Regions from separate parts of the Homo sapiens genome. Here region 1 is linked to region 2. The links come from fine-mapping of genetic effects on gene expression. A gene starts in region 2. The other region holds a variant in brackets. All regions are shown on one strand. Distances are from middle to middle.

What was found. PIP is the estimated chance that this variant, and not a neighbour inherited with it, causes the effect. A credible set is the group of variants that fine-mapping cannot tell apart.
Region 1: its variant is the best candidate, but not a certain one, in a credible set for the expression of CCR7 in whole blood (TOPMed, PIP 0.60).

The regions. Positions count from the first base shown.
Region 1 is chr17:40,599,152-40,604,530 of GRCh38, reverse strand. No RefSeq gene overlaps it. Among named protein-coding and RNA genes, the nearest start is that of CCR7, 36 kb to the right of the region's middle. RefSeq lists enhancers at 1,535-1,794, 5,133-5,379. The variant C/T (reference allele first, on the strand shown) is at 3,024.
Region 2 is chr17:40,562,875-40,568,253 of GRCh38, reverse strand. CCR7 (C-C motif chemokine receptor 7) reads left to right here and starts at 2,782. Exons shown (of 3, transcript NM_001838.4): 1 at 2,782-2,854. The coding sequence starts at 2,845. RefSeq lists an enhancer at 3,227-4,143.

The sequences.
Region 1 (5,379 bases), 36 kb before region 2:
AAAAATGACCTCTGCCCCATTTTGAACTCACATCACAGCCTGGCTCTGTCTCTTATTTACTGCCCTTGAAGGGAAGATCCCTATTTGATTCAATCCACAGCATCTCATTAGAATTCAAATGATGAGTGAGGATTTAAACAATTCTTGTGAGAGAGGGTGGGGGGAAAGAAAGAACTTAGAAACAATGATGTTATTGGCAGATTGGCAGAAATAGGCAACTACAGCCAGCTACCAAAACAAGAACAGTAGCAGACTGAGTAGATTGGAGCTTGGATCCAACTTGCAAGTTCAAGGGAAGGGGACATTCAACACAGACTTGCTGCTACTCAAGGTGTGGTCCATGGACATCGCCTGGGAGCTTGTTGGAAATGTGGAATCTCAGACTCTATGCTAGACTTTCTGAATTCCACTCGAATTTTTACAAGACTCCTGTGCACTCTAAATTTTGATAAGCATTAGGCAGACTAATGGTTCTTTTTTTGTTTTGTTTTGTTTTTTGAGACGGGGTCTCACTCTGTCACCCAGGCTGGAGTGCAGTGGCACGGTCTCCGCTCACTGCAACCTCTGCTTCCTGGGTTCAAGTGATTCTCGTGCACAGGCATATGCCACCAAACCCGGCTAATTTTAGTATTTTTAGTAGAGACAGGGTTTCACCATGTTGGCCAGGCTGGTCTCGAACTGACCTCAGATGATCCGCCCGCCTCAGCCTCCCAAAATGCTGGGATTACAGGCGTGAGCCACCACACCTGGCCTGGGATCATCTGAAGAGCTTTTAAAAATGCTGATGCCCAGGGTGTATCCCAGAACAACTGGCATCATGTTGATTTTTGTAGCTCACCAGGTGATTCCAATATTCAGCCAGGGTTGAAAGCCATTCATCTAGACCAACCCTCCAATTTGCAGGTCAAGAAACTAAAGTCCAAAGGGGTAAACTGACCTGCCCAAGGTCACACAGCAAGGGAGTGATAGTGCCTGGGACCTGAGCTCCAGTGCTCCACCCCCAGGGCTCTCTTCACTGGACTTCACTGCAAAATGGGGCAAGGTGGAGCGGAGCACCAGCGTTTCCCTTCTGGCTTGGCTTCTTCACTGTTGGGTCCTCAGCTCAGATCCCAAAGAAGGAGCTTCCTAGATGCAGGTGGCCTTACGCCTTTGAATTCCCAGGTGGACTATGGCCATAGAGGCCTCACGCTCTCAGGCAGTAGGTGCCAGAAGCCTGGGGCCAGGTGGGACTCTGCTTCCTGACCGGTGGCCAGTCTCTAGGCTGGAACAGCCTCACACTCTCACCCAGCCAGCATGGGCCTGCCATTCTCACCCGCCCCCCACCATCTTCCCAGAGAGACGGAGCCCTCAGGGACTGTCCCACCACAATTCTCAGAACTCAGGTGAAGTTTCTGACCCCCCACAGCCGCAGCTCCCGACTCCTCTGAGAACTGCTGGGACAGGCCTGTTCTCAATCAGCAACCGCGACTGTCTTGAAACCATCAGAGGCTCCCTCATGACTTGTTTTCGCTCTCTTGTCAGGGTTTTGGGGGTGTGTGTGTCTCAAACCTCTGATTGTCTCTGCTTTGTGACTTTTTCTGGTGTGTTTTTGAAGTGGCTTTTTGTTATTCTGCCTCCACTCGCTCATCTTTCTCGGCAGCCGTGGAAAACACTCTCGGCCTGTTCTGCTCTCCACCGAGCACTTGGATCCCTTGTAAACAGCTTGCCTGGTGGCCTGGACCAGGCTGAACAGATAGGAAGGGCCTGGGCCTGTCAAGCCTTTGAAAATAAACATGCTGCACTGAGCTTCACCATGCTCAGGGAGGAGGATGGGGTAGACACGAGAAAGCAGAAAGAACTTTCTAGGCACAAGATTACTCTCCTGACGGCCGAGTGAGGTCTTTTCCACCGCCCTAAAACAGGCAAGAACAGAGGCCTGCCCCTTCCCTGAGCCTCAGGCCTGCTAGAAGGAGGGCACCCACCTGCAAAAGCCTTTCCTGAAAAAAAAAGAAAAAAATTTTTTTGAAACAGAATCTCACTTGGTTGCCCAGGCTGAAGCGCAAGCGGCATGATCATGGTTCACTACGGCCCTGACCTCCCCAGCTCAAGCGATCCTCTCACCCTAGCCTACCAAGTAGCTGGGACTACAGGTGCGTGCCACCATGCCTGACTAATTTTTTTTTTTTTTTGTAGAGATAGGGGTCTCACCATGTTGCTCAGGCTGGTCTCAAATGCCTGTGCTCAAGCAACCCTCCTGCCTCAGCCTCCCAAAGTGATGGGACTGCAGGCATGAGCCACCATGCCCAGCCCTCTCCTGAAATGTGAGAGGTAGATCTTAACTTGCACTGCCCAATATAGTGCCACTAACCACACATGTGACTACTGAGTGCTTAAAATGTGGCTACTTTGCGAGCATGGTGGCGGGTGCCTGTAGTCCCAGCTACTTGGGAGGCTGAGGCAGGAGAATTGTTTGAACCCGGGAGACAGAGGTTGCAGTGAGCCAAGATCGCACCATTGCACTCCAGCCTGAGTGACAGAGTGACACTCTGTCTCAAGAAAAAAAAAAGAAAAAAAAGAAAGAAAAAAGTGGCTACTTTGACTAAGGAACTGAATTTTTTATTTAGTGTTGCATAATTTAAATAGCCACGTGTGGCTAGTGGCTACTGTTAGACAGCACAACTCAAAAGCAGGGTTCTCAAACTAGGCTGCATATTAGAATCACCTGGGAGCTTTAAACCACTCTGACGCCTGCAGCCATCCCTGGTGACTTTGATTTATTGCCACTGGGTATGGGCAGAGCCAGAGTTCTGAAAGCCCCACGTGTGATTCTCACGCACAGCCAGTTTTGCAAAACTCTGGCCCAAAGGACTTCCCACAGCTTTTCCACCTCTGACATCCTACACGTTGATCTGGTCTCTACAGTTTTCAGAATTTAAGGAGCAAGGAATTTACTTAGAGAATCAACTCAAGATGCTGGAAAATGTTTTTCTATGTTCTAAATGTAATGCATGTTCGTTGTAACACATGGGAGAAAATTGAGAAAA[C/T]TCAGAGAAATGAACAGAAGAAAGTCAAAATCCCCTAAAATCCCACCACCTAGAGAAAAAGGGTTGAAACACTTAGACGTATATCCTTCAAGGCATTTTTCCATGGATAGAGCCTTATTTTCCTTCAAAATTGAAATCCTACTATGCTTCCTATTTTGTAATGTTTTTGTCACTTTACTTATTTGATTAACAAATATATCATCAATTGTAATGGCTACATGACATTCTATTGCATATAAACCACTATTTATCCAAATTCATATTAATATTGGCCCCATTTTTGCTATAATTTTTAAAAACATTGCTATGAAAAAATACAATGTCTTTATGAAAAGCCATTCACTAACTCCTTAGGAGAAAAGAAAAAAAAAAGAATTCAGTCAAAAGGCATAGAAAATTCTAAGACTTCTCCTAAATGTTTACCAAATGACTCTCCAGAAAAGTTGAACCAGTTCACATTCCCATCAACAGAGCATGAAAGCACCTATATTTATATGCATGTTGGCACTGGGGATTGAACTTTTCAAACTTAACAAGGTTCGAAAAAAAAATGTTTTCAACCACCAACAGGCAACCCTTCGTTTCAAAGTTCAGCACACCTTTAACGAGCACTGACTATGTGCCAGGTGTCACCTTAGGTGTTGGTGATAAAGATGAATGGAATGCATCCCTGCCCTCTAAGAACTCAAGAAAGGGGAGAATTAACAACTTGGCTTTAAGTCAAGGGAGGACAATATAGATGCTAAATAAAGGTACCAAAGTCACACTGGGAGCAGGAAAGAAAAGCCCACGATTCCTCACAGCAATGCTGGGAAGTCTGAAGGGGTGGCATTTGAGCTGGCTCTAGAAAGGTTGAGTCCAGGCGCTGGTGAGAGGTAGGAGGTGATGATATTTGGCAAACACCAAAAAATGCTGGAAGGCTCGGGGGATTGGAAAGTTATTGCTTCCACCCTCCAGTGGCTCCTATATTTATCAACCGTCTACGGTCAGGAAGCTTCTCCTTGAGTCTCTCCAACAGCCTCCTATTGCAGCTTAAACCCCTTCCTCTCGTTATCTATATAGTGGGAATGGGAGGCAGCTTGAATGCATTCTCCATAAATTCACCTCCAGAGACTTCTAGCCAAGGCAAACACCAAGCATGGTATGATATGTTTTCACTGATGAGTTGGTCCCTTTTGCATTATTTGCTCCTTCTATAAAAACAACATCGACTTGTAATGTCAATATGTCCATTTACCAGCCTGGGCAATATAATGAAACCCTGCCTCTACAAAAAATAAAAAAATTAGCCAGGTGTGGTGGCATGTGCTGGTAGTCCCAGCTACTTGGGAGGCTGAGGTGGGAGGATCAATTGAACATGGGAAGTCAGGGCTGCAGTGAGCTGTGCTCGTGCCACTGCACTCCAGCCTAGGTGACAAAGCAAGACCTTGTCTTAAAAAAATAGAGGTAGATAGATAATGTGTGTGTGTGTGTGTGTGTGTGTATAGTTTTTTGTTTTTTGTTTTTTTAAGTTGCAAAACTCAAGACCATAGGGCAAACATCAAGGTGACCTGAATTCCCCAGGCCGCTGGTCGTTAACCCAACTTTTCCCCCATTATTAGGATGGCCAATGCCAGCCCCATAGAGAGAAAGGGGCAGCCAGTTCAAATCCTGGCTCTTCTACTTAGGCCCTTGTGAATTCCCTTGGGTAAACTCACTTTTTCATCTCCCTGGGCCTATAAGACATGGATGGTATGAATAGTGAAAAGTTAGGTTTGGGGAGGTAAGGGAAGCCTTTTGTTAATAATAATAATAATCACCTGTGACTCCCATCCATGTGGGCTCACGTCAAGCGGGCCAGCCCCTTGCCTTCTCTTTTTGTGAGTCTCTGTGACCCACAAACACACACCCTTTCAACCGAGTCTGCCATGTATTTCAGGAATAACACATGTTCCGGAAGACGGCCTTTCTTGGGAAACTCACTGAAAAATGAATTAAGGGACTTGCCCAACTGTGTCTCGGGGCAGGAGGTAAGAAGGGCATGACAGCCACGGGACCTTTTCCACCCATTGACCGACACTCCCTCTTTCCCCAATTCTGCCCTACAACGTCAGAGACCGGATCAAATTTCCCTACTTGCTCTGTCTTCACCTCCCCTTTCTCCCCTGCTCTGTGACGCATGATGTCCCTGGAGAGTCCCCCACATCATCACAGAACAAAAACAAAAACAGCAGAGAAAAAATGCCAAACCTCGCTCCCCCTGCCCCCTCTACTATGAGTCGCCCACACGATGAGGGTGCTTGGTTTCAAATACTAGAAATGAGATGGCCTTTTTTTTCTTTTCACTTCTGCTATTTACACAGAAGTGCCTCGGTGC
Region 2 (5,379 bases):
TATCTGGATGTTTCAGATAAAGGTTTTGAAGTACCCACCCCTTTGTTCCTCTCTGAGAGAGCCATGCCCCATACCTGCTTCTAGTTGGCCATCTTTGAAAATAAAATTAAGAAAACAATTTCATTTACAAGCACATCAAAAAGAGTAAAATACTTAAGAAAAAATTTAACAAAGAAGTGAAAGACTTGCAGCCTAAAAAGTATAAAGAAATTAAGGAAGACCTAAATAAATGAAAAAAATCCCATGTTCATGGACCAAAAGACTTTGTTAGAATGGCAATACTCCCTAAATTGATTTACAGATTCAATGAAATTCCTATTAGAATCCCAGCTGGTTTCATTGCAGAAATTGATAACCTAAAATTCATATGGAAAAGAGAGAGATGCAGATTAGTCAAACAATGTTTAAAAAGACAGATAAAGTTGGAGCAGTCACAACTCCCAATTTCAAAATTTGCTATAAAGCTACAGTAATCGAGACAGTGTGGTACTGTCATAGGACAGACACAGAGATTGATAAAATAGAATTGATAGTCTAGAAATAAACCATTACATTTATGATGAATTGATTTCCAACAGAGGTGCTAAGACAGTTCAATGGTGGAAAAAATAGTCTTTTCAACAAATGATGCTGGGAAAACTAGATATCCATATAAAAAATGAAGCTGGATCCCTACCTCACACCATATGCAACAATTAGCTCAAAATGGATCAGATCTAAATGTTGCAGCTAAAACTATAAAAGTCTTAAAAGAACATATACGAATAAATCTTTGTATACTTGAATTATGCAATGGTTTCTTAGATATGGCACCAAAGACACAATTGACAAAAGAAAAATAAATCAATTGAACCTCCACATTTAAAACTTTGCGCTTCTTTTGCCAGAGATTCAGGTTTTAAAAAACAAAAAGCCTTTGTGCTTCAAAGGACGCTATCAAGAAAGTGAAAAGATGATCCATAGTAAGGGAGAAAATATTTACAGATATGTATCAGATAAGGGATTGTAACCAGAATATATAAAGAAGTCTTACAACTCAATAATAAAAAATAAATAACCCAATTTTTTAAATGGGCAAAGGATTTGAATAGAAATTTCTCAAAAAATAATACAAATGGTCAATAAGAGCATGAAAAGATGCTCAGCATAGGTAGTCATTAGGAAAACGCATATCAAAACTACAAAGAGGCCGGGCATGGTGGCTCATGCCTGCAATCCCAGCACTTTGGGAGGCCGAGGCTGGCAGATCACCTTAGGTTAGGAGTTTGAGACCAGCTTGGCCAACATGGTGAAACCCCGTTTCTACTAAAAATACAAAAATTAGCCAGGCATGGTGGCACGTGCCTGTAGTCCCAGCTACTTGGGAGGCTGAGGCAGGAGAATCACTTGAACCCAGGAGGTGGAGACTGCAGTAAGCCAAGATCGTGCCACTGCACTCCAGCCTGTGCAACAGAGTAAGACTCCATCTCCAAAAAAAAAAAAGAAAAAAGAAAAAAAACACAATGAGATACCACTTTACAGCCACTAGGATGGCTAGAATCAAAAGAATGGACAATAGTAAGTTTTGTTGACAATGTGGAACCCTCACGCATTGTTGATGGGAACAAAATGGTGTAGTCACTTTGGAAAACAGTTTGATAGTTCGTCAAAATGTTAAATATATAATTACCATATGACTCAACAATTTCACTTCTAGGTATATACCCAAGAGAAATAAAGCATATGTCCACACAAACACTTGCACATAAATATTTATAGCAGCATCATTCATAATAGCTAAAAGGGAAAACAGCCCAAACATCCAACTGATGACAGACAAACAAAATGTGGCATATCCATACAATGGAATGTTATTCAGCCATAAAAAGGAATGGGGAATGGATCCATACCACCACATAGGTAACCTTGAAAACACTAACTGAAAGAAGCCAGATGTGAAGGTCACATATTGATACTTCTATTTATGTGAAATGTTCAGAATAGGAAAATCTATAGAGCCAGAAAGTAGATTTGTGGTTGCCAGGGGCTTTCGATGACAGGAGGGGAGGGGAGCAGTCATTGCTAGTGATTACAGGGTTCTTGAGAGGGAGTGAGAAAAAATGTTCTAAAATGTATTGTGGTGATGGTTGCATAACTCTGTGAACATACAAAAACCATTGAATTCTATACTTTAAAAAGGTAAATTTTATGGGATGTGGATTATAGCTCAATAAAGCTGTCATTAAGAAAGGAAAAGGAAGGGAGGGGAGAAGAGGGAAAGGGGAGGGAGGGGAGGGGAGGGGAAGGGGGGAGAAAAAAGATACATCGTGGCATATCTCTTCCCTTTTACCTGTCATTATGTGTCAGTGCCTCCCATTGGCCTAAACTACCCAGAAGCCAGAGGGAAAGCCATTTGGGACTATATTCCACTGTGACACTGAGCAGAGCAAGGGAAGGATGGGGACACTTCTCTCACACATCTCTGACTCCCCAACATCTAACCCATGGCCTGGCATGTGATATTCATGCTATAAATATTTGTTGAATCAGTAAATGGCCCCTCATCTAGATTCTGCCAGGCAGCGCAGGGGGCTTTTTGAATGTAAATGACCTAATGATTCAGGATCCTATGACCAGCGACTGTCACCCTCTGTCACCTTTCTTCTGCCCCTTTATCTCTGAAGGCATTGAAGGGGCCCTGCATGAGTCAGGGAGGGCTGGGGGGAGGAGCAAGGGTGGGAGGGGCAGGGAAGAGGGTGGCTTCTCCGACAACTTAAAAGGGGCTTGAACCACTTCCTCCCCAGACAGGGGTAGTGCGAGGCCGGGCACAGCCTTCCTGTGTGGTTTTACCGCCCAGAGAGCGTCATGGACCTGGGTGAGTGAGCCTCTTCATGTGAGAAGGAACAGTACCAGGGTCTTGGACACCCAGACTGACCCTGTGGAATGGGGGTGGAGGATGCGGGTGGAGCGCATAGGGGTGCTTCCTGGAGAAATCAGTTCTGATTTGGTGGGCATTGGAAGCTACTTCCAGAGAATGCCCCCTGCTGTCCCAGGAGGGGTGCACCTGCCCTTTCAGACCTGGAGAAGGGGTCAGCCTTTGGTGCCAGTGGGGACAAGGGAGGGGCCGAGATCATGTCTTTCTAAAACAGCAGGGACATAAGAGAGTGGCGGGGCTGGGCTTGGTGGTCTGGCAGAACCTGTTCTCATCATGAGGGTGATAGGTTAGGCCCTCTGGGACCTCTGGGGACAGGTTTCAACAGAGAAATTCTCCCTAGAGAGCTTAGGACCTTTTACCCACTCTCTGATTCCCACCTTTCTCCCCTGCCAAATATTCATATACCTGTCCACTTGGGGTCATGAGGAGATGCAAATGAAACGTGACTGGGTTGTGAGAATGGTGCGGTGCATTGCAAATGCAAGCTCTGGTTGCTTTCTCTCTGCTGCACATCCCACCTGCTTTGATCTGGCTTTGCTGTTGCCTCTTGCAAGTTAAGGAACGGGCAGGCAACATGGAATGGGATGGCAAGGGGCACTCAGCTTGGAGAAATCATAGCCAGGCCTTCAGCACAGCCCCTGCCCCTGAGCAAACCTCACGCACTCTGCCCCGGCAGATAACTCTACTCTTTAGAAAGCCCTTTCTCAGGTCTAACCTAGAAGGGGTCAAGGGGAAGCACTGAGGGTGTTCTGAGTGGTTCATCCAGCTCCAGACGCCCCCTTTATAAATCTCAGCTGTGGAGTCAGACCAGGCTGAGGCTAAGAAGACCAGGTTCCTAGATGGCTTGTCTCACCAGCAAACAATGCACCACGGCGGCCTCAAAGCCGCAAAGGGTTGGCTTTAAAAAGTGAAGGTTCCCTGGTGCTGTCCTCACACCCCTCCTCGCCACACCACAGCCTCCTTGATTTCATCTCTTACTTTCCCGCCTGCCCTGAACGCTGGATCTGGACCCAGCAAACAGCTGTGAAAGGGTTAAAGTGGTCACCCCACCCACTGACTGTGAACTCCTGAAAGGCAGGTTCAGGTGCTTTGAGGATGTGAGGAGAAAATGTCTGCGGAATGAATGAATACACCGTATCAAGAACTCCGTAGAGTTTAGTTTTTGAAAATCTCTTCCAAATGCCTCATTTCCCAGCCAATCTACCCTTAAATCCCACTCCCCTGCACCCCCTCCACCACCCCCCATCACAATCCCACAGTACAGACGTCACCCACAGAAGACCCTGCTCCAGCCTTTCATACTGGCCTCCAGGAAGGAAACCAAGCAGTGCCCAGTGGTGTGCTACTGGGCATTTGAAAAGCAGCTCCCCGGGGTGGAGCACTGGTAGCTGACTCCAGGGTGGAGGGAAAGTCCTGAATTTGTAGTGCTTGCCAATTTCCATGGTGTAAATTCTCCCACCCTGGCTGATTGATTTCAAGCCATCTACATGACTGAACAGGGGGTTGGGAAGATGTGCAGAGTGTCTTACCCCAGACTAGGTTTAGGGGTGCTAGACTCCTAGGCTTTGATGCAGGGAGAGAGGGTAATCTCTGGTCCAGGAAGAAGGGATATTCTTGCCACTTCACTCAACTTGAGAGAGCCCCAACGGTCAAACCCGAAATACTGGTAGGAGGGGAAGCCGCTGACAAGCTTTACTCAAAACGGGCTCTCTGGGCCGTTGATGGGGTGGGTGGGCCTTGGAGGATCTGTTGTTCTGCTCTTCATCTGCCCAGCAAGGAGCAAGAGGTGGGTGAGGAGGGAGGGTTTCTGTTACACAAAATGAAAACTCCCAAGCAGGGCTGAGCTGGCCTTTTTCACGGTTTGAATGAGCAGCTCTGAGGCACCCTCCCCACCTTCGAGCAATGAGACCGAAGATCTTTCATAATTCTCAAAAGCAAAGCAAGGAAAAAATGAACCCATGAGAGATGTGTGCCTCACAGCTCGGACATAAATGGTGGCAAAGGGGGATGCTGAAGCTAATTCAGGGCCAGTTTCTTGCCTGCCAGAAACTTGGCTGGGGAGGAGAGGAACGCTGCAGCCTGGGGTCGCTGTTGGAAAAAATCTCTCCTCTTTGCTTCGGACATTCAGGCAACTCTCATTGTTTGAGGGATTCAGGGATGACCAGTCTGGTGGGGAGAGTGACACATATGTCACAAAGCCACTGCAACAGAATAAGATACAGCATTGACCAGGGCAAGGGCAAGACAAGAAGGGAATAGTGAACCTGGGTCAGAGAGGTATTTAAGGTGGGTTTTCAAGGGTGTGTAGGAGTTGTCAAGCCCAACAAGGAGCTGCAATGGGCCCAGGATGTGGCAGGAATGGCAAACTCCATTGCCATCAGAGGCCGACAAGGTAATAGAGGGAATGGGCATAAGGTGCAGGAAGTGGAGGGGAGTAGAGTGACCCAGAGGGTGCATGCCCCACC